7 linked regions of the Homo sapiens genome follow. The protein of the gene in region 3 interacts with the protein of the main gene of each other region in a pairwise test. Each region holds a gene or a part of one and is shown on either strand. Other genes may lie near its edges. The genes, in order: AKAP12, PDLIM3, FHL1, NFIL3, EED, LAMA4 and CSRP3.

Evidence for each region.
Region 1: the proteins of FHL1 (region 3) and AKAP12 interact in binary tests that used the Homo sapiens proteins (3 or more experiments, as listed by UniProt).
Region 2: the proteins of FHL1 (region 3) and PDLIM3 interact in a two-hybrid assay, tested with the Homo sapiens proteins (one large-scale study listed by BioGRID and IntAct).
Region 4: the proteins of FHL1 (region 3) and NFIL3 interact in a two-hybrid assay, tested with the Homo sapiens proteins (one large-scale study listed by BioGRID and IntAct).
Region 5: the proteins of FHL1 (region 3) and EED interact in a two-hybrid assay, tested with the Homo sapiens proteins (one large-scale study listed by BioGRID and IntAct).
Region 6: the proteins of FHL1 (region 3) and LAMA4 interact in a two-hybrid assay, tested with the Homo sapiens proteins (one large-scale study listed by BioGRID and IntAct).
Region 7: the proteins of FHL1 (region 3) and CSRP3 interact in a two-hybrid assay, tested with the Homo sapiens proteins (one large-scale study listed by BioGRID and IntAct).

The regions. Positions count from the first base shown.
Region 1 is NC_000006.12:151,246,336-151,250,426, reverse strand, and holds part of AKAP12 (A-kinase anchor protein 12), read right to left. Parts: intron 1-4,091. UniProt on the Homo sapiens protein: Anchoring protein that mediates the subcellular compartmentation of protein kinase A (PKA) and protein kinase C (PKC).
Region 2 is NC_000004.12:185,507,535-185,511,625, reverse strand, and holds part of PDLIM3 (PDZ and LIM domain protein 3), read left to right. Parts: intron 1-3,063; coding exon 3,064-3,327; intron 3,328-4,091. UniProt on the Homo sapiens protein: May play a role in the organization of actin filament arrays within muscle cells.
Region 3 is NC_000023.11:136,199,633-136,203,723, reverse strand, and holds part of FHL1 (four and a half LIM domains protein 1), read right to left. Parts: intron 1-4,091.
Region 4 is NC_000009.12:91,413,380-91,417,470, forward strand, and holds part of NFIL3 (nuclear factor interleukin-3-regulated protein), read right to left. Parts: exon of another isoform or gene 2,187-4,091; intron 1-2,186.
Region 5 is NC_000011.10:86,247,753-86,251,843, forward strand, and holds part of EED (polycomb protein EED), read left to right. Parts: intron 1-1,696; exon of another isoform or gene 1,697-1,808; intron 1,809-2,543; coding exon 2,544-2,696; intron 2,697-4,091. UniProt on the Homo sapiens protein: Polycomb group (PcG) protein. Component of the PRC2/EED-EZH2 complex, which methylates 'Lys-9' and 'Lys-27' of histone H3, leading to transcriptional repression of the affected target gene.
Region 6 is NC_000006.12:112,132,449-112,136,539, reverse strand, and holds part of LAMA4 (laminin subunit alpha-4 isoform 1 precursor), read left to right. Parts: intron 1-285; coding exon 286-417; intron 418-1,930; coding exon 1,931-2,073; intron 2,074-3,052; coding exon 3,053-3,191; intron 3,192-3,649; coding exon 3,650-3,787; intron 3,788-4,091. UniProt on the Homo sapiens protein: Binding to cells via a high affinity receptor, laminin is thought to mediate the attachment, migration and organization of cells into tissues during embryonic development by interacting with other extracellular matrix components.
Region 7 is NC_000011.10:19,198,822-19,203,614, reverse strand, and holds the start of CSRP3 (cysteine and glycine-rich protein 3), read left to right. Parts: upstream 1-1,631; 5' UTR 1,632-1,661; intron 1,662-4,793. UniProt on the Homo sapiens protein: Positive regulator of myogenesis. Acts as a cofactor for myogenic bHLH transcription factors such as MYOD1, and probably MYOG and MYF6.

The sequences.
Region 1 (4,091 bases), on a different chromosome or scaffold from region 3:
CCCGTGTTCAAGCGATTCTCCTGCCTCAGCCTCTAGAGTAGCTGGGACTACAGGCAGGCGCCACCACACCCGGCTAACTTTTTTGTATTTTTAGTAAAGCGGAGTTTCACCATGTTGGTCAGACTGGTCTCAAACTCCTGACCTCAAATGATCCACCTGCCTCAGCCTCCCAAATGCTGGGATTACACGCGTGAGCCACAACGCCCAGCCTATTTATTTATTTTTTTGAGACAGGGTCTCTGCAGCTTCAACTTCCCGGGCTCTAGTGATCTTCCCACCTCAGCCTCCCAACTAGCTGGAATTACAGGCATGTGCCACCACACCCGGCTAATTTTTAAATTTTTTGTAGCAGTGGGGTCTCACTATGCTGCCTAGGCTGATCTTGAACTCCTAGGCTCAAGTGATCCTCCCACCCTCACCTCCCGAAGTGCTGGGATTATAGGCATGAGCCACCATGCCCACCAGGTGTGAGCCACCATGCCCACGAGCCACATGTTGGTATTTATGTATGTATGAACTCACCATAGCCATGAAAGAGACAAGGGTAACACTTGAGATGTAGAATATAAAACTATTTTAAACCATGGGCTTGCTATTATAATTGATCAGATGTTTAGCCACTCCCACAATGCTTTCAGTTTATTGCACAAATAGACACAGCAGAAAAAATTTAAAAGTAAAAGGAAATCAATAAACAGGTTTATGCATATATGGAAACTTGAGTTTTAACAAGAGGTAACTTTTTAATCAATGGTACTGGAGCAATAGGTAACCCATATAAAAATGAATTTAAGATTTCTCCTTCTAGACATCATCAGTAGCTAGTGGAATAAAGATCTAAATATATGAAAGAGAGAACTTTAACTTTTTTAGAACTGAACTTCTGTTTCCCCAGTTCCTAGCACAGTTCCTGGAGTACAGAAGCTAGTAAAGAAGTATTTATGAAATGGCCAGGCGTAGGTGGCTCACCCTGTAACCCAGCACTTTGGGAGGCCAAGGCAAGAGGATCACTTGAGCTCAGGAGTTCGAGACCAGCCTTGGCAACACAGTGAGACCTTGTCTCTATTATATTAAAAAATAAATGGAAGAAATTAAAACAGAAATATTTATGAAATCAAGATTGAATAGTAAGTGGCTGAGAAAGCCAGAACTCTATTCTTCAACAACTTGGTAGGTTTTAAAATTTCTTTACAGATTTTTGGACCAGTCAAATGCCATAAACTAAGCCCTTAGCTACTGTCTACTTATTCAGCACAAGGGAAGTTTTAAAATGATAAATAAGGGAAGAGGGCTTAGGAGGCAATGAGATGGAAGGGGAACACCGAAAAGTCACAGCTTCTGGCTCAGTAGGGATACGGGCATTTCACTGAACACCTACTTACCTTGAATGGCACAATCTATTTTAAAAAGCCTCCGTTAGCAATCCACTTTTTTTTTTTTGAGACAGAGTCTTGCTCTGTCGCCCAGGCTGGAGTGCAATGATGCGGTCTCGGCTCACTGCAACCTCCACCTCCTAGGTTCAAGCGATTCTCCTGCCTCAGCCTCCCGAGTAGCTGGGATTACAGGTACACACCACCATACTGGCTAATTTTTGTATTTTTAATAGAGATGGGGTTTCACCATGTTGGCCAGGCTGGTCTTGAACTGCTGACCTCGTGATCCGCCCGCCTCGGCCTCCCAAAGTGCTGGGATTACAGGCGTGAGCCACCATGCCCGGCCAGCAACCCACTTTTTAATATAGTCAAACAAAGGAATGAAATTATGTGGAAGAAATATTTTCCTTTATTTTATCCTCCAGATGTGTGAAGGAAAATGCTACTCTTTCATCATGTGAAACCGTCCCTCTCACCCACACAAGTTCCAATCTCAGTGAAATCTGCACATGCTATCACCCAGTGTCACCTAGACCTGAACCTCTCCCTGGCCCTTATTCAGCTCTTACGCCTACTCCTTCCCCTCCCTTAAGGTAATGGAGCCCACACCCCACACATTAGAATATCTGATGAGCATTTTAAGACTACAGAATCCCAGCACAGTGGCAGGAGCTGGTAGTCTCAGTTACTCAGGAGGCTGAGGCCAAAGGATGGCCTGAGTCCGGGAGTTCAAGACTAGCCTGGGAAACACAGTGAGACCCTGTCTCTCAAAAAAAAAAAAAAAAATCACAGAATCCCAGACCCTGAGATTGCCTGGGATTCTAATTCAATAAATCCAGGATGAGGTGTAGGGGTGTCTTTGAAAAGCTCTCTAGGTGATTCAATAGCACCACCAGGTTTGGGAATTAGGAAAAATTTAATCCTTCAATACTCCCAGTTTGCAGTATTTGCATATAACAAATAGATGGTCAGCCAATAAACTGCAGTAATCTCTCCTTCTTAAATTTTGGTTTATTTCGTTTTGAAATCAAACATGAAACTGACATGCTACTACAACTGGGATTAAGATTAGGCAGAGAGAAACTACAGGGTTTCCCCCATTTAAAAAACATCACAGAGAAATCACAGGGAAGACAAAAAGCTTTGAACCTGAAATGAATACTTGTATTAAGAGGTGCCTAATGGTGTCCCGGTGTCCCAGATGGTTTCCTGTGCTTTGAACACCTACATTTTTCTCAGAAAATCCATGTATACCATCCAGTTAACAGAGCCAGGCTGTTTGCCGTGAGAACGGGAGAGGATCCCGGGTAAGCCTTCACTCTATTGTTTTCCCAAGAGGTGGATTTCTGCTGCTTCCAATCCCTGATCTCAACATTTCACGGATCATGACCACAAAGTAATTTCTGGCAACTAAATGATTTTAGATTGTTCCAAGAGAAGAAATTTTAAAAGTGATAGCTAAAGAAGTAGGTCATCCTCCAAGCAAATAAATTTAAAGATGGTTCATTAATTTGGAAAGGAAAAGGAGCAAAGGAGAGTAAGACTGCTCTACCTCAGCTGCGTTTTTATTCTTGAACTTGCTTTTTTCCAATTTGATTAATTTCTGGGGAAAAAGTTTTTTTGTTTTTTTGTTTTGTTTTGTTTTTTTAAATAGAGATAGGGTCTTGCTCTGCCACCCAGGCTGTAGTGCAGTAGCATGATCATAGCTCACTGCAGCCTCATACTCCTGGGTGGAAGCAATCCTCTCACCTCAGCCTTCCAAGTAGCTAGGACTACAGGTACACGTCACCGCACCCAGCTAAATTTTTTATTTTTTGTAGAGATGGGGTCTTGCTATGTTGCCCAGGCCACTCTTGAACTTTCTCTCAAGTGATCCTCCCTTCTTGGCCTCTCAAAGTGCTGAGATTACAGGTGTGAGCCCCCACACCTGGCTAGAAAAAAAAATCTTTAAAAATTAATTGGGCAGGGCATGGGGGCTCACACCTGTAATCTCAGCACTTTGGGAGGCAGAGGTGGGAGGATCACTTCAGTCCAGGAGGTCCAGACCAGCCTGGGCAACACAGTGAGACCTTGTCTCTACCAAAAATAAACAAAATTAGCCAGGCATGGTGGTGTGCACTTGTAGTCCCAGCTACCTGGTGGTGTGTGCCTGTAGTCCCAGCTACTCAGGAGGCTGAAGTAGGAGGGTCATTTGAGCCCAGGAGGTCGAGGCTGCAGTAAACCAAGATTGCACCACTGCATTCCACACTGGGCAACAGAATGAGAGCCTATCTCAAAAACAATAAATAAATAAAATTAAAGTTAAATGAAAATGAAAATGAAAATTAATTAACAGTGAAACAAACCATAGCCTTTCATGCTCTGACAGCCAGACCAGTGCATGATCAGATGGCAAGCACATGGCAGAGAAACATGATGAGGCATTCAACTTCACAGTTAAAAATGCACCAAGGAAACTGAGGTACCATTCTTCACCTAGCACATTGGCAAGTATTGGAAAATCTGATACCCATGAAGGCAAAGCATGGGAAAACGAGTGCTGATCTCCACGGTGGAACTGCAAAGTGGTAGAACCTCTTTGGAAAGTCAATTTAGGAAGGGTTAAATTTTTTGTTTTTGTTTTTGTTTTTGTTTTTGAGACGGAGTCTTGCACTGTCACCCAGGCTGGAATGCAGTGGTGAGATCTCAGCTCACTGCAACCTCCCCCTCCCAGGTTCA
Region 2 (4,091 bases), on a different chromosome or scaffold from region 3:
ACTTTGGGAGGCCCAGGTGAGCAGATCACCTGAGATCAGGAGTTTGAGACCAGCCTGGCCAACGTGATGAAACCCCATCTCTACTAAAAATAGAAAAATTAGCTGGGCATGGTGGCACATGCCTGTAATTGCAGCTATTCAGGAGGCTGAGGCATGAGAATCACTTGAAGCTGGAGGCAGAGGTTGCGGTGAGCCAAGATTGCACCACTGCACTCCAGATGGGTAACAGAGTGAGACTGTCTCAAAAAAAAAAAAAAGTAGTAAGTTGGACATGCTAAATTGTTAACAGCTCAATTTCCCTGGGGTTTTACCATTAGCTATAGTTCTTTTGATTATTTCATCATAACTGAAGCCTTTTAAAAGACTGGTGTTTTCATATACAAATATGTAAAATTTTTAAGGGTAAAGCTACAATTAAATACATATGTAAGGTATTTTAGATCCAAATGATAAAATGCAATCCTATGAGTGGTTTTTGGACAAGTTGCTTCCGGAAGTATGCCCCAAAATGTCTGTACACACCCCAGAGAAATTAGCAATCTGTCAAATGACGTATCTGGGCATGAAGTAATTGAGTGTGTTATCAACCTTACAAGTGGCCTTGCCAAGTCACTAAGTCAACCCCAGAAAATCTCATTAGCACCTGCCTTTCCAGGTCATCAGGAACAGGTCGTGGTGACCCACGGTGCTATCCCCAGTGATATCCACAGTGACTGGAATCCATGAAAACTCGTTTACTTAAAGGATCAGTTTAAAAGATCTTTTTAAATTGGCCCAGAAATTTATAAAAGTTCATTCTTGTTTGCTTAGGGTTCATTACTCATTTATTTAATAGACATGGGCCTGATTGATAAAGGAACTGGGAATGCATGTTTAACTAAAATTACATAGTACACACATATGCATATACTGTTGACCCTGAGAACACGGGTTTGAACTGTGCAAGTTCACTTATATGTGGATTTTTTTTCCAATAAATATGTTGGAAAAATTTTTGGAGATTTGCGACAATTTGAAAAAAGTCACTAATGGTAGCCTTGAAATATCAAAAAAATTAAGAAAAAGATTTGCCATGAATGTATACAATACACATAGGTAGTAGTCTATTTGTGTGCTAATAGACTGTTTATCTGTAAAACTTCGGTTCAACAGTAGGCTATTGGTAGTTAAGTTTTGGAGGAGTCAAAAGTTATACATGGCTTTTATAGCAGAAAAATATTACTAATAACCGCTATAAAACATGGCATAAGTAAAAGTTCTAAATTGATCATTGTTTATCTACCCAGTACGGGCACTATGTCTGGCACACAGTAGGGTGAGAGTAGTTATAAATGCTTGTTGAGTAGGTTCATTACTGGGAGGCCGAAGTCTCCCAGGATTTAACTCTGTGTTTCAAATCCCTAAACTGATTTCATAAGCTTCATTACACTCAGGTTAAATCCACATGATCCTGACTAAACTGCACTACAACTGAAAATGTACTCATATTCTTTTACCAGCTGAAGTCCATTTCAAGAGTCACTATAGATCGTACAAAAATGGTGAATAGGCCACTTGATATTTTGGTATGTGATCTAAACAATGTACAGATTGGGTTTTCAATAGGTTCTCAAAAGGCAGGAAGTGAAGGAGCAAGCTGGTATTCACCTGTCTGGTTTAGGTTATGTAGGTAGTTAAACTGGATAGCACAAGACAAAAAAAAAAAAATTTAAACCCATTTAGTGACATGAGTTCTCCAGACTAATCCGGCTGCAACATTGCTGGAGTAGAGAAAGTTACTGCTCAATACCTTTTGGTTTCTTATCTTTATATGGGCTGAAGTTAGCATTAATACCTCTAGAGAGTAAATGCAGATATGGGGCCATACTTGAGACCAGAGACAATCTTGACTTAGCGGTAAACACACCATATACATCCATTCTCTGTCTTGAGCTTACAGCAACACTAACTGGAAAGTATGATAAATATTTACATTAATACTAATATTTCTTTTTGCTTTGTCTTAAATGACTATGCTTTTTTTACAAAAATCTCTTGGTATCTCTCATGCATGTGGAAAAATGGACTTTTTAGTCACTAGCATGTCAGTTGTTAACTGACCCCTATCCAGTTTCCAAATAGAATGTACAATCTCCCTAGTTCTTCGATGTGCATGACTGGCCTTTGATGTTTTAATAAGTCCCTGAAATGTATCTTTAAAAGGAAAAGGGAAATATGCCTGGGAATAGATGCGTGCTTCTGAAATTGTGCATAAAATAGCTATGTAAGAAATATAAGCATCGAAAGAGTGAAACACCACCTTATTTCTCCTCTAATCATTAATTTCAAGGTGATAAGCATTTATTGGTTTTTTCTAGGGCTTGTATTAAACCACTGAACAATTGTCTTAAAGTATACTCCTCACAGAACTAAAGAGTAAAAATAGAAAATGTTAAAATAGTAACAAAATATTTACAAGATAGCCTTAAAACATAATCTGTACCATAAAACCTACAAGTTACCAATTACTATTCAATTAAAGTTCAACCGTATTACTGAAATATACTTCTGATTTTGAAATGTTGAGCCCAAATATGTGATTGCATCTTCATGCTGCATATTCAGTGTTCACTAAAACTTTAATTTTAAATGTTGCACTTCAGAAATGTAAAAGGATGTCCAGCCAATGTAATTTTCCTTCATCACTTGTGATATTGACCAGTTTTAAAGTCTTTGGCCTATTTTTAAAAAGTGAGGATAGCTGCATCTTTTCTACTTCATATACAACTTTTCTACATGTAACCCTCAAATTACACATTGCCTAGTGAAACAGAGCCAAAAAATGCAGTATCACCTGTACCTTTTAATTTTATTAAACTTTTTTCAATCATGAATTTTTCACCGTCTTCCCTTTATAAATAAATTCTAGTGACAAATCAAGATTTGGTTTTATTTTGATGTAATTCACCTCTCACTTTTGTCTTCAATTCCTTTTAACCTCTCTGTACGTGTTCTCTGTGTTCTTCTGTCTGGACTGTCTGGCTCCCGGTGCCATCTCTGTGTAACGTGTATCCATTAACACAGTGGATGCAGCACTCCCTCCGGGATTGACTGTGGCAGTGGACGCAGCACCCCTTCTTCTGTCAGTACTGTTAGTACCATTTGCCCAGGTGACTTGAAAGTTGCGGCTAAGCTGGCCCCTAACATTCCTTTGGAAATGGAACTTCCTGGTGTGAAGATTGTACATGCTCAGTTTAATACACCTATGCAGTTGTACTCAGATGACAATATTATGGAAACACTCCAGGGTCAGGTTTCAACAGCCCTAGGGGAAACACCTTTGATGAGGTAATATGAGTCTCTTTGAACCATGGGCATATTAACTAAACACGTGGGCAATGTCAGCTTTACTGGTGTCTTTTAACATTGTCTTAATGGAAAGAAAGCTATGTGAAAAGCTTTTTTAAAATACTAAGGATTTACTGCAAATATCTAGGCTTGGAAAGAAAGCTATGTGAAAAGCTTTTTTAAAATACTAAGGATTTATTGCAAATATCTAGGCTTGGTGATAAAGGTGATTTGAGGAATTATCTGTAGAGCTTTATGTGTCAGATAGCAATAAAATGAAATCAGGTAAGGACCAAATGTATATGTCTCTCGAAAGCTACAATGTACTTTACAAATATCTGGTGTAATACTTCTCAAAGTTATTTATAATCTAGTATACCCTATGTCTGTCCTTTGGGGATCAAAAATTAGGAAGGAGGTGGGAGGTTTAGAGGAATTTTATGAGATGATTCTTCTCTCTTCTGATAGCAGCTTGTGGAGAGGTCATTATTTACTCATTTACAATGTTTATTGTGCATAAAGGTTTTTAGGTGAATACCCTCAGGCTGTTAATGTAGATATTTAATTTTTGCTGGTCTCTTTTTGACTAATTTTTTCTTTGTTATAACTATTTGTTCACAGTACTTTTGCCATAAAGATTTTGATTAAAAAGATTTATTATAGGATAAAATCTTACTGCTTCTTTCACTATTACAGAATCACTATTTATAAATTAAATTATTATAATGCTTCAGAGTGTTAAATAGTGATATCCCAAAGCTATC
Region 3 (4,091 bases):
TCACACTTTAAAACCACACACTTTCAGTACTTTGATATTACCAGTGCAAAGTTCTTCATTGTTTAGTCTCATAGTTCTAGAACATGACTTGCTCAGAGTTCTAAGCATCCAGATGATAAAATAATCCACAGCTCACCAGTGAAGATAGAAGTAACAAAGGGTGTTGAAAATGTCAGACAATGAAGTCACTGGCCACTGTATCATTCCTATAGTACATGGTCTTAAACCAAGCAAAAGGAAAATTAAATGAATCAACCCCAAGTTAATAGTACCCATAAGAAGAGTTTCATCTCTTGGTATTTTTGAATCCTAGCTTTAGGCAAGATTTTTTCACTCTGAGTTTGAAAACTCTAGGGTCACCTTACACCTTAGATTCCCCACCACTCTATACTTAAACCTGCAGTCTGTATCCAGATGGAGAATCATTTCAAAGGGCATATTCTTTTAGAATACATTTCTACAATTCACTTGAGTCCTTTTAATGTGTGTGGAAACAATTAGTCTAGATAAAATAGGCACTTCTAGGAATGTTGGATTTGTTGCATAATAAGTAAACAGGCTAGAAATACTTAAAGTATGTTAACAATGTCTATGTCAAATTCATGAACTTTCGTATTTGTTTTGCAATAAATCAAATTAAGTGGAACTCTGGGCAACCTGAATTAGCTTACGTCACGTACTTCTAAATTTATGATTATTTGTTACAAAACAATTTCAAACCCTCATGCACGCAGTGTGCTCAGGATGAAGTTGGAGGAGATACTGATCACGTCACAATTTTGTATAAAATATGAATGATGTGCTGATGTGCACAAGACCAAAACAACTCTAAAAAGCCAGCTTATAAATGACAATGCTGAGACACACATGCAAAGATCCTGAGTGTGGGCTCCCTGAGTCTGAGCTACTATCAAGCTTTGACTTCATGAGGAGAGAAAAGCTTGCTCTTTCTTTCTTTCTTTTTTATTTTAGACGGAGTCTCGCTCTGTCACCAGGCTGGAGTGCAGTGGCGCAATCTTGGATCACTGTAACCTCTGCCTCCTGGGTTCAAGTGATTCTCCTGCCTCAGCCTCCCGAGTAGCTGGAACTACAGGCATGTGACACCACACCCAGCTAATTTTTGTATTTTTAGTAGAGACAGGGTTTCACCATGTTGGCCAGGATGGTCTCGATCTCCTGACCTCATGATCCACCTGCCTTGGCCTCCCAAAGTGCATTTTACAGGCGTGAGCCACCGCACCTGAGATTACAGGGGTTACAGGCATGAGCCACCGCGTCCATCCCAGCTTGCACTTTCTTTTGTTTGAAATGAGAGAATAGGGAAAAATGAAGATAGCATTTTACCTCTTTGTTGTTGTTGAGACAGGGTCTCGCTCTGTCACCCAGGCTGAAGTGCAGTGGTGCTATCCTGGCTCACTGCAACCTCCACCTCCTGGGTTCAAGCAATTCTCCTACCTTAGCCTCCTGAGTAGCTAGGACTATAGGTGAATGCCACCACGCCTGGCTAATTTTTGTATTTTTAGTAGAGACGGGGTTTCGCCATGTCGGGCAGGCTGGTCTTGAACTCCTGACCTCAAGTGATCTGCCCACCTCGGCCTCCCAACTTGATGGGATTGCAGGCATGAGCCACCATGCCCAGCCAGCATTTTACCTCTTCTTTTGGGCTCTCTTCAACCTTACAGAATTACATGTACTTAGGCATTTATTTCTTAGGGAATAATTTTTTATCCCCTTAGCTATTTCTAAGTACATGAAATGTGAAGGCCTTTAATCTTCCAGAACTTCTAGATATGTCTGCCTTGACCTATTGCTGTTATCCGGGAATGGGAGTGTCAGCCATCATTGAAGGAAACAATTGCTACACATCATCACCATGCTTCTTCCCTTACCACTTGTCTTTGTGGAGGGCATGTTTGCCCTCGGGCAGCTCTTTGACTAATTTTAATGTCTCGGTGTAGCCCTCATCTGTACATAGTAGGGATGCCAGAGTAGGTATTAGACATGAGCAGGGCAAGAGAGGGCCCCCCACCCAACCAGGAATGTCAGGCGGCCATCAGGTGAAGGTCAGATGGTTGTTAAACTATCTCTCGCTAAAATAATAATTGGTTGCAGCTGGCACCAAGGAAACACGGTCCCTAATAGACAGAAACACCTGAAACTGATGCTCAGCCACGTCCCCATGAGATCTCAGGAGGTGGGTAATTGGGCTCAAGCATGTGCACTAAGAGGCAAAATTGCGGTGTTTAACTGGTATAAGACCTACCTCTGGGAATGCTCTACTGCTAAGGGAAAAATCGCTTAAAGTAAGCATGCACACAACTTCAGTAAACACCACGCATGCGGCACTTCCCAAGTGCTGGCAGGCCACTGGGCATGCGGACAGCCCACCCCAAGGGAAGAATCAGGAGAGAAGTAATATAACACCCGAATCATGCCAACATATAAAAGCCCAGGTCAAAGGTCAAACCATGCACTTTTTGAATCTCTCAAGTAGCCTGCTTGGTCATCTTCTAAATGTACTTTACTTTCATTCCTGCTCTGAAACTTTATTTTATTTTTTGAGACGGAGTCTCACTTTGTCACCCAGGCTGCAGTGCAATGGTGCAATCTCTGTTCACTGTAACTTCCGCCTCCCAGGTTCAAGCAATTCTCCTGCCTCAGCCTCCCAAGTAGCTGGGATTACATGCGTGCACCACCAAGCCTGGCTAATTTTTGTATTTTTAGTAGAGACAGAGTTTCAGCATGTTGACCAGGCTGGTCTCCAACTCCTGACCTCAAGTAATCCACCCGCCTCAGCCTCCCAAAGTGCTGGCATTACAGGCATGAGCCACCGTGCCCGGCCTCCTGCTCTAAAAGTTTTTAATAAACTTTCACTCCTGCTCTAAAAGTTGCCTTGGCTTCTCCCTCTGCCTTGTTCTTCCTTGAGGAGGCAAGAAATGAGGTTGCTACAGACCCACAGATTCCCCGCTGCTAACATACTTTGGTGCCGAGTGACTTGGATACATTCCCTAGTGCTAACAAGTGGGGTTTCTCTATGACAGAAAGTTCTGCTCATACACTAGGGGGCCCCAGTACCTAATCCAGGGCTTTGTATACAGGAATCACTCAGTATATGCCTGTTGATTGACAGATGGAGATATGTTACCACAACTAAGTTTCTAAAACTTTGGTATGTGGATAGTCACTGAAAGTGGCTTCTGATCCAATTATCTGAGCCTCTATTTTGTCCATACCAACCCTATTTCAGGACCACACTGATTTCCTTTCTGTAAGGACTTCTTTCTTGGGCCTATTCTCCTCTGCTTTCATGGACTTATGAACCTAATGCAATATGACATACTATTTCCTGATTTTAAAAATCATCTTATATGACGTGTAAGGTGCTGAAGTCTAACCTACACCTTAGGTCCACATAAATGTCCCCTGATTTTCTAAGACAGAAAGCATCATTATTAAATAATTTAATTAAAAATTAACTAAATTAAAGTTTTACAAGCTTAGAATACAGTTAGAAATGTGGCTGGGTGATAAAATTTTAGACATTTATTCCAAAAGGGTAGCCTGACTTTCTATGCCTGCTTCAAAAGACACATCATTTTCACTTAATAAACAAGCTTCCTTTTTCAGAAAATTCTTGAACTACATCCAACATGCTGAGAGGTGCCTAAATAAACCTCAGTATCTTAATTAAAAGTTTTGGCTTTCAATTTAATCATGTACACATACAAGTAATATAACATTACAACATTTGTTTTTTTCTTTTTTCTTTTTTACTATAAACCTCTCATTACAGTCGATTTGTATTTAATAAATCTTGCTTGTGTTTTTACATGTATTTTCTCATGTATTTCTTCCTATTGTTCATCTTCTCCCTCATGCCTGAGTTGCTCAAACTATGAATATTTAAGGAGAATGTGAATATCATGAGTAGGTAGCATTTTTCTATGTGTTTTCCATGAAGGGTGTAATGTACAGTGTAAACAATGAACAACAACCCAAATGGAAAAAAATCAGGTTATTTCAGATCTGTTCTTCACTAAATCCAACCTACCAGTACATTAGTGACTCCACATATAAACACTGGCTTCTAA
Region 4 (4,091 bases), on a different chromosome or scaffold from region 3:
CTGGGGTTACAGTTACGCGCCACCACGCCCAGCTAATTTTTTTGTATTTTTAGTAGAGACGGGATTTTACCATGTTGGTCAGGCTGGTCTTGAACTCCTGATCTCAGGTGATTTGCCTGCCTCGGACTCCCAAAGTGCTGGGATTACAGGCATGAGCCACCACGCCCGGCCAACAATACTATTTCCTCTAATTTGCATTTAGGTTTTGTCCTCTAATATGAAAACCCAGTTTCCTTTACATATTGAATGGATTCTTTCCTCTGTTGAAGTCTGCACTCTGCCATTCAGCAAAGTCCTCCTGCTAAAGTAAAATGAGTGGAGAAGTAAAGAGGAAGATATCCCAGTTAAAGAAGACAATTGCACTGACCTTTCCCAAGGCACCTTTCAAATCTCCACTATACTCTTGGCCACTACTTTTTTCCACTTTTAGTTTTTAAACATCATATGATCCCTTGCAGACTATTATTCTGGTTATTTTCTCCACCTGAGAATCTTTCTCTTCCATGTGTTATCTTATTTGTTCCTTCTTAAAAAAAAAAATCAGATTCCTTTATTTTGCCTCACTTACTAGATTTACAGTAATGCTTTTGAAATGCCCCGCCATTCTGTCTGCCTTAGTTACTCTTCCTAAACTTCTAGGACCTTTTCAAGGTTGGGGCCCAATTGGGAAGGAGCCTTCACAATAGGTCCTATTTCTATTTAACTGAAATAGCCCCATTTGTCTTAAAATTTCCTTAACTCATGTCTTCTAGGTGTCTAAGTACTATATGACTACTTTATCATCTCTACAACTTTGTTGGTACATTAACCTACAGAAAACTTCATTTGCTTTTTTGTTTTTGAGACAGAGTTTCACTCTTGTTGCCCAGGCTGGAGTGCAATGGTACGATCTTGGCTCACCGCAACCTCTGCCTACAGGGTCCAAGCAATTCTCCTGCCTCAGCCTCCCAAGTAGCTGGGATTACAGGCATGTGCCACTAAGCCCAGCTACTTTTGTATTTTTAGTAGAGATGGGGTTTCTCCATGTTAGTAGAGATGGGGTTTAGTAGAGATGGGGAAACTCCATGGGGTTTCTCCATGGGGAGTTCAGGCTGGTCTTGAACTCCCGACCTCAGGTGATCTGCCTACCTTGGCCTCCCAAAGTGCTGGGATTACAGGCGTGAGCCACCTCGCCAGGCCACCTCATTTGTTTTTAATCATCTTCTTCCTATTTGAATTTCATGGCATGTCACTATAAATCTGTGATTCTGCTCTCATCTGTATGTATTACATTCATGGTCTCTACAACTCAATGGCAAATCACCACACTATCTTAGGATATTTTCTGTAATATTATCTATCAAATAATCTTGCAGTGTTGAAAAGAGTTTATCAGCATTATGGGATGATACGGAGACAGGCACAATCATATACACTGTGTGTGTTTCCACGTGTTTGTCTTTTGTGCCCAACTACACTGCGAATTACTTCAGGGCGGAAATTAAAATATACTTGTCTTCTAGCAAAAACCTGAAGATATTAGGTGCTCAACATTTCATTGACAGTCACCCATATACCTTATATAAGAGAGTTTTGTAAACAGAAAACTTTTTTGATGCTTTCTTTTTAATGTTATGTGAATTGTAAAGAAGATATTTTACTTATTAACAGAGAGATTCTCTTATTCATTAATTTGTTTATTCAACACATATGGAGCACCTACTGTGTACTGGGCACAAGGGGAGACTAGGGGCACATAAAGAGGGAGAGAAAAACCAAACTCCCGAGACCAGGCGCTCAGTCGTGGGTGGGTGGGAGACAAACAGGTGAGCAGAGGGGAACCAGGTGTGAGTGCAGAGTTGCACAAACATGGGCCTGGGGTGCAGGCTTTCTTCTTGTCATGGAGATAATAACAAAAACAATCATAATTGGTGCCATTTATTGAACACTTACCACAGAATGGGCACTGGGAGCCTGACCTGCTTTCTTTCATTCACTTTTGGTGACAATTTTCAGATAAGAAAACTAAGGCTCAGAGAAGTCAAGTGACTTGCCCAGTGTCACATAGCTAAATGGCAGAGCGTACATTCAGGCCCAGTTCCTTTACTCTCTCCTACACTTTCACAGGTGGTTCTGCATCTTTGCAATGCAGTCTCATTTACACACAGTTCTCTTTTGTGTCACTTTCATTTCTGAGTAATACATACCCTTTTACTAAGTTACTTTGGGCGCAGTAAGGCACTATGCTAACTTAACTACTTCTTCTTTTTTTTTTTTTTTCTTTTTGAGAAGGAGTTTTGCTCTTGTTGCCCAGGCTGGAGTGCAATGGCGCGATCTTGGCTCACCACAACTTCCACCTCCTGGGTTCAAGCGATTCTCCTGCCTCAGCCTCCCAAGTAGCTGGGATTACAGGCATGCGCCACCATGCCCAACTAATTTTGTATTTTTAGTAGAGACGGGGTTTCTCCATGTTGGTCAGGCTGGTCTTGAACTCCCGATCTCAGGTGATCCGCCTGCCACAGCCTCCCAAAGTGCTGGGATTACAGGCGTGAGCCGTCACGCCTGGCTCCTTAACTTCTCTTAGATGCTGTCTTAACTTCTTTAGCCAGCAAAGATACTATCTAGAACTTTTCTCCATCCTCCTTAGATGTTTCAGATCTGGCACTATTTATGAATTGAGAAAACATTTTATTAATTTTCATATCTTTACTAAAATTTTAACCTCCTGGCTATTCTAATTATGTTAAATAGAGAAAAAGAAATATGATAGCTGTGGACATTGTCACCTATGATCTTCTTCTTTTTTTTTTTTTTTTAACAAATCCAAGAGTGTAATCTGTTTTCAACATGAGGCGGGGGACAGTGTCTCTCTGACCCTCTCATTTTGCAGATTAATCAGCTAGAAGACAGGCTGACCTTCCCAAGACCACACAGCAGTTGGGCACAGATGGGCTCTGAGCTCTCCTTATGCCCCTCAACAATGAACTTAAAGCAAATGCAAAAGTAGTTTACGATGCCTTCAAAAAGCCTCAGGATTTATGCTAACCTAACAAATTTATTTCAAGCCTCAATATTTTCCCTTATGATTAATTTAACAATTACTTCATCTATGCATCATCTTTTCAAATCAACATCTAATGTTGTGGTATATTAGTCATTGCTTAAGTTTCTTTTTTGGTGAATAATTGACACTACATGCCAATTCTATGATGTTAGTGTATTCAGCACGATTAACTTCATTACACACATTAGATGATATGACTCTCCTTGAAAACACAAATAAAAAAGAGAAATTTAAGAGCAGGTATTATTACCTACCAGTTGACATATTTTTCCATACATACTCCGAAGGTGCCATCACTAATTAATGCTTTTGTATAGTCCATCACACTACTTCTCTAAGCAAGAATTATATAGCAAGAATTATATTTCATAAGCCCAGATTTTTAAAGTTTAAGTCAGATTACCCTATTGTTTTTAATTAAGTACAAGATTTGATTTAGAAAATTCTATAAAAGAATATAACCTCATAACAATAATTCTAGACCAAATTTATCCTTGAGGAGTTATCTCATTAGTTATGTTTATGATAGACCTTTATCTTCCCTGGTCTCTCCCAGAACTAATGTTTAACAATCCAAGCTCCACAAAAGAAAAGAATAAACATGCTTTGTTTCAATCATCTGAAATCTTACTAATAGTCTAAACATTAAAATCTACTCTGAGAACATTTTGTTATTAATTATCTATAAAGGGTAAGTTTTATTGCAAATTGCAATATATATTTTGTTTTTAAAATTCTGTCAATAGAAGATGAAATACTATTTGATATGCCCAATGATTTGGAAACATTATAGAATTATCTTATTTTCCCTCTACTCTCTGAATGTATTGTTTTCTCCCTGTTATATAATACAGATAACAGTAAAGGAAAAAAAAATGTCTTCAAGGTAAACCTAAGTTATGTTAAACTGTAAGCCACCTCTCCAGTAAGACAGCAGATGCTTATTTTTTAGATAAATGTCATTTTCATGAAAAAATCAAATCAATTAATCAATTCACATCTCTTTATACTTTTAAAGTATGAATACTAGCAATATGTTAACCCTACA
Region 5 (4,091 bases), on a different chromosome or scaffold from region 3:
TAGTTTTACTCTTGAGGGAGCCAAATAATGGCAAAAGGCCAAAGCAGATGGGGTGTGGGGGAATATGTTTTTGTGTTAGAGTTCAGGTAACCTGAGCAGTTACTACTGTTAATGTGAGTCAGAGAATTACAGGCACATATTTTACATTTATTGTGTTACCTGCCATTTTATTGAACTTTTTGAGATCATATGACTGCAGAGTAGTTGGCTTCTGCGAGAGTACTAATGGATGCCTTGGTAGTAAGATCAGAGGGCTGAATCTGGAGACTTGTCTTTTTGCTTAAGCAAAAGCAAAGATGCAGGGAATCCCTGTGGCAAGATGCAGGTGCAAATTACTGCCCTGTGTCTCTTTCCTCGTTGGGCAAGTGAAGATGGTAGTACCATGTCTGTTGCACAGTATCATTCTTTACTTTGAGAATGGAATAGGATGGAGGTCACCCTGTACATATATTAGACACTCAGCAAAGACTTGATTTTAGTTTAAAGATAAAATGGAAGCATGGTGGCTGTATTACATTTTCATTTGATTCCATCTTGATTTGCCTTGGGAGGAGATGGGTAAATTAAGTGATCAGAAGTAAAATAAGCAACGTGCCCTATTAACGAATGTTTTGTGTGGCCTCTGTATTGGCAGCTCAGTGTTTAGCCAGAATGTAAAGAAACTGATATATAAAAACGTCTTAGAGTTTTTAAAATTTCAGTTCTCTAGTGTTAAAAGGTAATTTTACAGAAAAAATGGCAAGTGAACACATGTTGAAACTTTTACTCAGAGGGAACCAGGCAAATGTTATACAGTAATGGTTAACCCGCAAAATCAAAACAGTACAAATTTATTAATATATGGAGTAAAGGAATGGAGAGATGAATTCCAAATGGAGACAGAAACTTTTTTTTCCCTTGAGTGGAAGGGAAGACATTTTGAACCTCTACTGTAGAGACAAAATTTACATGTCTATCAGTTATTCATAATGAAAAAAGAGTTGTGGCTGGGCGCAGTGGCTCACACCTGTAATCCCAGCACTTTAGGTGGCTGAGGTGGGAGGATCCTTTGAGTCCAGGAGTTTGAGACCAGCCTGGGCGACATCGTGAAACTCTGTCTCTACCAAAAATTAGCTGGGTGTGGTGGCCAGCTCCTGTTGTCCCAGCTACTCAGGAGGCTAAGGTGGGGGGAAGATCACTTGAGTCTGGGAGGTGGAGGTTGCGTTGAACCAAGGACAGAGTGGGTGACAGAGGGAGAGCCTGTCTCAAAAAAGAGTTGTAAGATAGCTCAAAGACATAGTGGAGGGCTATAGTCTGGTAACTTGGAAGGATGTGCTATATAGATAATGCATAGTTTTCCACTGAGATACAGAATTGTTTTCTACGTTTGATGTTAATTATGTGAATACAACTGAAAAGGTGGAGAGAAAAAGAGATTAAAATACCACATTTTCTATTTCTGTAAAGACTAATGATATTCACATTAAATTACAATTCAAATATTTGTTGAGTACGTACTGCTTGCTACCCGCCTATTATTTCATTTATGATATTTTTTAACCTTCTATATAAAACCAACTTTAGGAAGCAATAATTTAAAAATAGCCCCTAAAGCAGTGTTTCCTAGGCTGTTTAATAGGCATTTCATGGAAAAAAAAAAAAAAAAAGGCTTCCTCTGGAATGTATTTTAGAACTGCTGCCCTAAGATCCTAGATTAAATAAATCTTTTCTTTCCAAAGGAGACATTGGAATCTGTAATCAGGAGGTAGTGGAATCCTCTTCTGAGATTAGAGAGCTGAGATTAGAGGGCCACTCGTGTGTGAGATAAGGTATGAATTAGGAGAATTTTCAAGGTTTCCTGCAGTCATTTCTTTTTTTTGGAAGGATTTACTTTAATTGTGATTGAGAGTCTCTGGAGTTCTGATTTATGAGTATTATTACTTTAGAACAATGAGACAGTTTTAACTTGTAAATAGCATAGAATATATGTAGCACTTTAAAAAAATTCTAAATGTTTTGCGTTATAAGCAGAATTTGAATAACAGGATTTTAAAAAGTGACATCTAATGTAGAAGCCATTAACACTCCTGCTTCAAACGGCTCCCCAGCTCCATGCTCCAGACTGAGCAGCAGTCAAATACATTATGAAGACATATACATCAGTCAGATTTAAGAGTCACAGCTTTGGGATGGAATTACCAGCCAAGAGACCAGTTAGGCTTTTTCAGCACTTCCAGTACCTTTTGTAAAGAGCTGTAAAGATTCACTGATACAGTGTATTAAAGTGACTGGAACAGACCAGTGCCTTATTAAAGACAGTATTACTCTTCCATTATTCTCATTAGTATTTATTTCATTTTCATTTTTGTTGAAATATAAAATATCTACAAACCTTCTAACCTGTAGCTGGATTATGTTTATCCTTATGTGGAGGCAAGAATACATTTTTTTCTTCTTGTAGAAATTATTTCTCTTAGGTCAGTCAGCATCTTCCCAGTAGAGTTATTTACTGCTAAAAACAGTATTGCTGTTTCATGTAATTTTTCCTCATTTACTGCTTACAGGATGACGCTGTCAGTATAGAAAGTGGTACAAACACTGAACGCCCTGATACACCTACAAACACGCCAAATGCACCTGGAAGGAAAAGTTGGGGAAAGGGAAAATGGAAGTCAAAGAAATGCAAATATTCTTTCAAATGTGTAAATAGTCTCAAGGTATGTGCAAAAAAAGATCCTTTGGGCTGAATGCTAGGCTTCAGAAATTATTTCTCTGTGGCACGCATTTCGTACTCAGGATACTCTGTCAAGTTGTAAATATTTTAAAGTTACAATGTTTTCTGAAGGGTTTTTTTTTTTGTAGTTCAGACTGCGTATCTATTTTAGTCCATCCCATGTTTAGTTTTTTGGTTTTGTTTTTTGTTGTTTTAATTTAAATATGTGACAGTGTTGCAGGATGTTTTTGCTTTATTGTTTGCATTCAAATTATAAGATTTGGGTAACTATTACTCTTTATATTTTAGTAAAACTTAAAAAACATAAGCCACTTCTGGCATCAGTTTTTAAAAAGAACTGAATGTAACCCATTAACTTTGACTAAGTATAAATTGAAACAGATGTTTTACTTTGTACAGTTTCTGTCCTTTGTTTTATTTATAACTGTTTTCAAAGAAAAAGGTGTAAAAAATTTTTAAACTTTTTAATATTAAATATTTAGGGAAAAGGGGGTTTTGGTTATTTAAATTAATCTGTCCCCAATAGTATTTTTATTTACTTTATAAAAGGGGTTACTGGTGTTTAAGATATTTTCTTTTATATATGTCCAGTTTGTTTTTTAAATGTGAGGCTATTTTTTTCTATACTGAGGAAAAATGTGTATTATCTCATACATATGTAAGTTAAAACCTTTTCTAAATATCCAAATATATTTTTTATAAGTAAAGTTTTGGGAAAGCATAAGAAGCTATGACTATGACATTTTTCTGTCTGTGTAGCAAAAATTCGATGCTCAGTGTGTCAGATTTTGCTCCTGTAAAAGGAGAGAAATTAATCTCAGCATATTTTTTAAAAGTCAATTATAGTTTCATGTGCATATTTATTTACATTAACGTACTACTTTTAGGTACTGTACCTGGAAGATGTTTTTAGCTGCCTTTTATACTTAAGGCAGTATTTCAAAATCCTAAAGCTGTGGCTTTTCAAATGATGAGAAAACGAAAGACGTACTTTAAAAGTGAAAACAGTGCCTTAAACTGCATCTGAAAGTCAGTGTTAAATGCCAGAAGTTGGCCAGTAAAATCCTAAAGCTGAAAAATAACTTTGTGAACAAAAGTGCATAATTGTTCTTTGTACATCTCCTATAGCCTCCTGGTAACTGTGCAGTTACAGTTTATTTCTTCCCCTAGTCCCCAGTGTTCAGATATTCTCATTCTGACTAACAGAAAACAGTGATTTGAATGGAGTCTGCTATGCTTCACTTTACAAGGGAAAAATTTAGCCTTATAAAATTTAGTGAATGCCAGAGAAGCTATTAAGGCCATCTGTTAATTTCCTGTTTCAGAAAAATAAATTGTGTCCTTTTGTATCCACCAAAATTATCCAGTTTATTGTGAT
Region 6 (4,091 bases), on a different chromosome or scaffold from region 3:
TTGTATTTTTAGTAGAGATAAGGTTTTGCCATGTTGGCCAGGCTGGTCTCAAACTCCTGGCCTCAAGTGATCCACCTGCCTCGGCCTCCCAGAGTGCTGGGATTACAGGTGTGAGCCACCACTCCCAGACACTGTCACTTTTATTTCATAAGAATTTCATGAGACTTTCTTAGTCTTCAAATAGTTCCAGTAATAAAGAATACAGTCTTATTTCTCAAATTCAGCTAAATCTGACTCTACTCGCATAACAGATGTTCCTATCTTACAATTCCTTTCTCTCCTCAGAGTATGTTTTTCAGACTGGAAATGCGCAATGGTTACCTACATGTGTTCTATGATTTTGGATTCAGCGGTGGCCCTGTGCATCTTGAAGATACGTTAAAGAAAGCTCAAATTAATGATGCAAAATACCATGAGGTACAAATCATTGTAGTTTGGTTGGTTTTGTTTTTGTTCTTTATACTTAGATCTGTTGATCTAATCAGGCAGTCAAATGAGACAGGCAGGATGGTAAATAAACTGAGAACTTTCATATCTAAAGAGCAACTGAAGGACCCTCATCTTCTCAACCCTAGGAAAACATTTACTTTAAAACATTGGATGTATTTTTCCTGTTGATGTTCCAATTTAAAAGTCACTGAAAGATTCCTTTTAATTGCTTAATTAACCAGAAGGCTTCTATTAATCTTAAATATCTCAATTGGTATTCCTACAGGATACTTCTATACATTTGTTGAATGAGCCAGAGTGTAGATACACAGCCTTTTTTTGCTTATCCTTTGAGCCCCACCAAATTTAACAAGAATACATATAAGTAAATACAGAATTTCCTTTTAAACCACTTATCCAGAATTTAGAAAATACTAGCACAGTTTTCCTTATAAAGAGAACTCACAAAGAATCCCCTTTAGTTTTGAAACAGATGTGCAGACTACTGAAAATATACTTCATCCATTTTCATTAACTATTTTAAATATACAACTTAATAAAGTGTATACAAGGCATAATATCTTTTAAGTTGAACCAAAATGCGAAGGGTAGGAGACTGTATTTCCCTTTTCAGTTCAAAGTCCATAGCCTCATGAGAATGGTTTACAATAAAAGAATATTTTAACTATTTCTCTGACTAGCATTTTTGCAGATTCATTAGAACTGCTCACTGTGTCACCAAAAAAATTACACCTGGTAACATGCAATCTAGATTCCAGAAGGCACCTGCTTGGGAATACAATAGGGGTCACCAGGGGTTAGGGGATAGGGAAATAAGAAATTGCTGTTCAATGTGTATACAGTTTCAGTTGTGCTAGGTGAGTAAGTTCTCGAAATCTGCTGTACAGCATGGAGCCTATAGTTAAAACTAATTTAAAATTTATTTAGGATAGATCTCATGTTAAGTGTGCGTAACACACATGCTCACACACACACACACACCACAAAGGGACACAAGGAAATGCTGGGAAATGTGTGATATGTCTCTTACCTTGATTGTAAGATGATATGAGTGTTTGCATATGTCCAAGCTCATCAAATTGTATACATAAAATATGTGTAGTTCTTTGTATGTCAACTAGACTTGAATAAAGTTGTTTTTTTAAAAAAAAAGAGAATGGTGGCACCTGTTTATAGTTCTTTCCTGAATCCTCTCAGAAGGAGCAGGAGGAAACAATAGGTCTAATCGCAAAATTTTTCTTGGGCTGGCTCCTCTTCATACAGACCTCCTTTCCCAGAAAGTGTGAACTGCTGCTTGTAGAAGCAAGAGTTTTCAAGTCTGTGAGAAAAGAAAATCTATCTATTCCCCATTTTGTGAACAAACAAGCACAAAGGCATGGAAGAACAGCTAGTATACCAGGAGAATTAAAATATATAGAAGTCATCAAAGAACTGAATATTAAATAGTTAATCAAGGCTTACTATATATTATCTCTCCCAGATCTCAATCATTTACCACAATGATAAGAAAATGATCTTGGTAGTTGACAGAAGGCATGTCAAGAGCATGGATAATGAAAAGATGAAAATACCTTTTACAGATATATACATTGGAGGAGCTCCTCCAGAAATCTTACAATCCAGGTAAGGCTTTTTGTTAAGTAGCTGTTTGTTCCTAGCAATGTACTGGGCTGGCAACATCCAGGAGAGGTCTAGTAACAGTGTACGCACCCTTACTTGCTACTTTTACACACAGGGACAGGCACAGGTACACACATTCATGTACCTTCAGGCCCTCTGCAGTCAGTCCTCAGGACCTCCTGAAATTAGCATCGCATAGATGTAATCACAGATTTCTTCAATTATTGTATTACTCTTAGAACATGATCTAATGCAGTATTTCTCATCAATAATAGGAACGGTGGAACATGTGTATTGTGTGAAGACAAAACAGCATTTGTCCATTTACTTTTGCTTTAGCCTTAAACCCATTTTGAACTCTCCAATAGCATCTGAGCTACACAAATTTTTAAGGTTATCCAAAGGGTTGTGTATTATGTATAATGAAACATTAAGACACTCCCCTAAACTTTGTTGATTACAGATGTGTTGGAAATAATGCCAAAATGGATTCATTAATGACGTGGATTAATAAAAGTCTGAAGACCTGTGTTCAAATCCTAACATCACTTGTGACATAAGAGAATAATTTATTTCTTAGTTTCATTTCTTAGTTTCATTACGTTAAACCCTGTGAAATTACTAAGAATTGATTATATTTCTGTGTAACATGTTAGTTCCTATGATTCAACCTAATAATCGTCTGCTAAAGGGAAATCATAGCATCTCCATCTATTTCACTGAATTGTTATAAAGATAAAATGAGATAATGTAAGTTAGAGCATTTTGAAAACTGTAAGGAAGAAATTGGCTTGACGTAGAACAAAACTCTTCTATAGGCAAAGATTAGACATTGCTGTGTGCCTATCAAAGAAAGCATGAGAATATGAATGATTATAAAGCCATTACAAATGACTATAAATAAATGCAAATTCCATAGCCTACATATGCAGGGTAACATCATCATCATGGCTGTATCAGTGAGGCTGACTTTCTTTTCCAGGGCCCTCAGAGCACACCTTCCCCTAGATATCAACTTCAGAGGATGCATGAAGGGCTTCCAGTTCCAAAAGAAGGACTTCAATTTACTGGAGCAGACAGAAACCCTGGGAGTTGGTTATGGATGCCCAGAAGACTCACTTGTAAGAACCACTCAGTCAAAAGCTTTTTAATAGACACAATACTTATCACTCTCAAAAGCTGGAAAAGTTCTTTTCAGCTTCTCTCTGATCCTAGGTACACCTTGGGTTCCTTTCTGCCACCACCAGAAAGAAGAACCATTAAGCTAGAAGGGCTCTTGTGCATGGGGTTCCTCTGTGACTTGTTCGTTTGCTTCAGTTTTCCATGGGTGGGGCATCTAACACCCAGAGAGGGTGTGCTAGCATCATTGTTCACTCAGGTTGGAGTCAGTGGAGAAGATGAAACCCCATCTCTCAGAGGAGCTCCTAGTGTATGCCTGAATTCCAACATAGACCAGAAGTGGGAAAATAAACTATTTACGTAGAAATTAACAGGCAAGGCCTTCCGTATGTGAAACATTGATAGTTTTAAGCATTTGATAATTCTCAAAAACACTATCTCCACTTGTTCTGGCACACAGATATCTCGCAGAGCATATTTCAATGGACAGAGCTTCATTGCTTCAATTCAGAAAATATCTTTCTTTGATGGCTTTGAAGGAGGTTTTAATTTCCGAACATTACAACCAAATGGGTTACTATTCTATTATGCTTCAGGGGTAAGTGTTTGTTTTTCTCTGAGGAAACTTCTTTGTGATAATTGTTTTGCCTATTAAAAATAATTTGTAATGCATGTTAGAAGTGATTTTCTATTCAGATTAATTTTGACTCACACGTAGACACACAGAATGCCTCATTTCAAACACTTTATAAAATATTCTATGTATTGTATATCAGAAGTTCCTAACCTGGAATTCATAGACCCACCCCCAAGGGTTCATGGATAGAATTCAGGGGGGTCTGTGGACTTAATGCGAAAAGATTACATCTTTATTTTCTCTCACTGAAATTGATCATTTTCTT
Region 7 (4,793 bases), on a different chromosome or scaffold from region 3:
TGAAAAAATGCTCATCATCACTGGAAGCTCCTCTTTTATCTGCTTTATATACTGATTTTCCTCTTATCTACAGAAAAAAGTATTCTGATGCAAACACACACACAAAAAAAATTTTAAAGCTACTATTGGTTGACCAGTTTCAGTGACTCAAGCCTGTAATCTCAGCACATTGAGAGGCCGAGGTGGGCAGATCACTTGACCCCAAAGTTTGAGACCAGCCTAGGCAAAATGGTGAAACCACATCCCTACAAAAAAATTAGCCAGGCGTGCTGGTGTGCGCCTATAGTCCCAGCTACTCAGGAGGCTGAGACAGGAGGATTGCTTGAGCCCAAAAGATCGAGGCTGCAGTGAGCTGTGATCATGCCACTGTACTCCAGCTTAGGCAACAGAACGGGACCATTTCTCTAAACAAACAAACAAACAAACAAACAAAAGCCACTATCCTAGACGATTTCTAAAGTCCTTTCTAGCTTTAACTTTCTAAAATCCTCGTGATTGCCTCGTCTTTATGATGAAGATGCCATTTAGTGAAAACACAGACCACGGATATCTCATAGGAGGCTATGCCACGGCCGTCTTTGTGAAATTACTGCAACCTTCTTGACAGTGAAATATTCTATCCTTCAACAATTGCTTTGTGGGCAGGTAACCAAAGGGCTAATATCTGATGTGAAGGCTGGATCATGAACCTCCCGGTTGGGTTCTACATGTACCTTACCTCAACATCCGGGTCAACATGAGTGGAAGGGGCTTGGTGCCTCAGTTTCCTCATCTATAACATGAAGAATTGGTCTTCACATCTCTGAACCTCTTGTCAGCTTTTCAATGCCATAATTTATATCAGTCCCTGGTGCTTGATCAAATTTAAACGGTGTGAATTCCAGACAAAGAAAAATTAGACCTCCAAAGAAAATATGGGTCTACAGAGACATATCAAGATGTTATAAATATAATGTGATGATGATAAATATGCACTGCTGTATCAAATTCTTAAATAGAAAAGGATAATAACAAAGTAAATCAAAACTTTTTAGAGAAAACTTCGTTTCCTAGGATAGATGGAGTGACAGGTCCCAAGTGATGTGCCAACCTTTTTTCTCCCAAGCTTCTTTGAAGAGATTATCTAAGTATCGTTTCAGACACCCATCACCCTTATTTTTAGCTCTGAGTTCTCTTCACGAGTGTGGTGACCTGTGGCTCTAAGTTCCAGAGGCTCCCAGATATGGCACATGACTCATTTGCAGGTACCCTGCAATGATTTCCAGGAAGGTCAGTGGGGTGGGGGCCTGGAGAAATGATTTTTGATGTTAAACCCTTAGCTCTTGTTCCTGTTCCAACCACTTGATCAGAAATGACACACTTCATAAATTGATCCCTTGGTGCCATAAGCAATTGGCAGTGCAAATAGAACCCAAGTGATTCGGTTCTCCAAGAGGCTCACAGCTGGCTGGGGGGTTGGGGGAGACAAAACTCAGGGCTTTGGTCACAGTCTATTTTCAGCCCCTGATAGCAGTTGTGTTACTCACGTCTCATTCACCCTCTCCCTTGGCCTCCCTCCTGCCCTTCCCCCAGCAGGCCAAGGCTGGTGACAGCCTTCATATATTTAAAGAGGACAAGAGCCCCTCAGACTCAGTTGAGCTGAACGGAGTCCACACAGGCAGGTGAGTGGAGCAAGGCAGACATTTGAGCTGGAGGTGGGTTGGTTCTGTGGCTGGTTTGGACTATAAAGGGTCCCATAGAGTAAGAGCACATTTTACGTCTCAAGTGCCAGCACCCTCTCTGGTTCTGTGCAAGGAGGCTCAAGTTGTACTTGACTCTGGTGTGGATCTAGCAGGTATTAAAAAATTCCTGCAAGGATGGTTAATATTTAGGGGGCTTAAGGGACCTCATAGGCAGATAAATGAGTAAAGAATTATCCTCATTATAAAACTACTTACGTGGTGGAATTACATTTCCTGTCATCTTAGTTGGAACAACTGGAAAGCGGGAGGAAATAATGGAAAGTCTGCTGACCTTCTCGTCTTACAACCACCATATAATTCATGGATGACAGACTTTGAGAAGGTTCCTGCCCTCAGGGGCTTGGTCTCCTCTTCTGCAAGGATCAATACAAATTGGCGACATTTTTTCCAAACTGTAAAGTACTGCACAGATACAAAGCGATAAGCGATTGTACTAGATGCAATATATAAGACAGCTTTCCCATGCTCAATTTACCTGGAATGGTGTTATTCAAAAGGTCGTGGTGAATGACTGAGATTTTGGGCTTGTTGATTTTAAATAGACTTTTGTATCCCAAAGATATTCAGCAACAAGTTTGCTTTTAATCTTTTGAAATTAATCAAAACTGGACCCCAAAAAGACATTGCTATGTTGAAATATATTAAAAGCTCTATTAAATGGGAGGATAATTTATCCAGTGGTTAGGATTCCCACTGTTTCCTCTAGGTTTTAGTCAAGGACTTTTTAAAATATCCCAGTGAATGACAGACATAGGTGTGATTGAGAATAAGAAGAGGTTTTAAGCAATGGTCTGAGTGGAAATGCTGCTGAAAGATCCAAGCTGCCGACTCTAATTTCTGCCCTGTTCCTGAGCCAAGGTGGTGACTCCTCCAAGAAGGAGGAGTTGAGTTACTGGTCTGAGGAACCTTGTCTCTGCAATACGATTCAATGTAATTTAATAAGCATGTATGGACCATCTCCTATGTCAGGGCTGGAGGGAGGTAGAGGCAGCTCTATGCAGGGAAGGGTATAAGTGAACAGCACGAAGAGTGGGAAATTGGGGATGGCCTGTGTCCTCAGTTTACATCTGGGATTAAATCTCAATGCTGGGTACATACAATTCATCACAATGCATGTAGAACTGCTTTATGATCCAGAAAATGTGAGGGAGTCTTATGACTTGGCTTTGTTCCCTTTCTGAACAACTCAGTCGTTTGTGGTCAGTGGCAATGAGCCCAGGCTATTGGGCAGGAGGTGTAGCTGAGCCCCAGGGCTTTGTGTCCTCCCTGGGGTTCAGGCAGACAGGTGCTCTGCAGCCCAGACACACGTGTCATCCATCAGAAACAGGAGACACAGGGCAAGGGGCCTCCTCCTTCGAAGGAGAGAAGGGGGGAAGGAAAGAGAGAAGGAGGGAGGGAGGAAGGGAGGAAGAGAGGAATGAAGGAAGAGGGAGCTGCAGCAGCATTCAGCCAGCAAATAGCCAAAATTCCCTTGGAGGAAGTGGAGACAGAATCTTGATAGAATAGAAACTCAGAAATCCTGGGATATTCAAGAAGAAAATAAAGATAATCAGTTATAGAGCCCGTTCAAATTATAGCTCTGAATATCACTTAACTTATCTGAGTTTCCATTTTCTGAACAATAAAACTAAGGGTAGCCTACCTCTATCAAAGGGACTTGTGAGAATTGAATGAGATAAAGTATAGGAAAGTACTTTTGTAAAGTTTAATATAACCGTACAAATATGTGAGAACGTTGAGAAAAGGCATACAGCCAAACCCAGTGGGTTTTGGGGGGGTTTCCTGCTAAGTACAAGCGTGCTGATAAAAGTCCAGAGGTCAGAGTGGGTAAGAAGCTGACCAGGAGTTAGAAGATAATTAATTTGTTTTACAAGAGGAAAGACCCAGGGCTAGGAATATAACACACAGGAAATACAAGTCTTGAGGCAGACAGATTTCCAGTTACAAGTGTGCTGTTCAGATATCTGTGAATAAATACTGTATAGAGGGTTGGGCTTCATGCACAAAGAGAAATGTGATGCCTGCAAATGTGAAAAACTGCAGTTATTCATCCCAGTGAAGAATGGCAGGAAGGGAGACAGTAATGGTCTTAAAGGGCATTGAGGATGGAGCCTTTTCTGAGCTTTACTGTGGGAAAGGGTTGATCATGATTTGATGGTCGTTTATGGCCTAGGCAGGCATGGAACGAGTACTAGCTTATTTAAGGGTCACAAAAAGTTATGCAAAACTCATTTTTCAGAGGAAGAAACTAAAGTTCTAGAAAGCTTAGGAATTGCCCAGCATCACATGGCTGAGAAAGCGGCAGAGCCAGGAGGTAAACTGGGATATGATGTGGTCTTTAGAAATAAATTGTAGAGGTCAAAATAGAACAAAGAGTGAGTTTTGGGAAGTAAAAGCTGGCCACGCTTCAGATATAATTTCACAAAAGGTGTAAGATGCCCATGTTCTACAGCCTTCATTTAATGTATGTCTACCATGTCTGAGTTTAAAAGGGGCTGAGAGCCAACACTCAGGTTTATTTCCATGCTGGCAATGAGCAACCTGTTCTTCCTGGGCTCTGTGAAAGGGCCTCTGGCCGGAGGACGTCATATATCTGGGTTCAGAAGCTCAGGAGGAAGCAGCCACTGACCTTGAATGTCCTACACCGAGAACTGAAGGGCATGAGCTCCCCAGACTACAGGGCCCCTGGCTAGGCATGCTGCCTCCAACCCAATCCAACAACGCAAGGGGACCGACTCTCACCCCGACCTGGGCACACCTGTCCTGGGGCACCGCACACTCCAAAGGCTGAAAAACAAAGCTGATTCACAGTCTGAACCAGAAGGGCCATGGAAAACAAGCAGGGAGTGAGTTGTTTGTTCTAAAAGAACAGACTTGAAAACTGGAGATAATGTAATAACAACAATAATAGTCATGATGCAAGTAACTACAATTATTCAATTCCTGCTATGTATTAAGTAATTCTATATGGTGTCTTAGCTATTATTATCTTCTTTAACCTGAAAACAACCTTCCCAGACAAGCCTTCTCATATTGTCTTTACATGAGGAC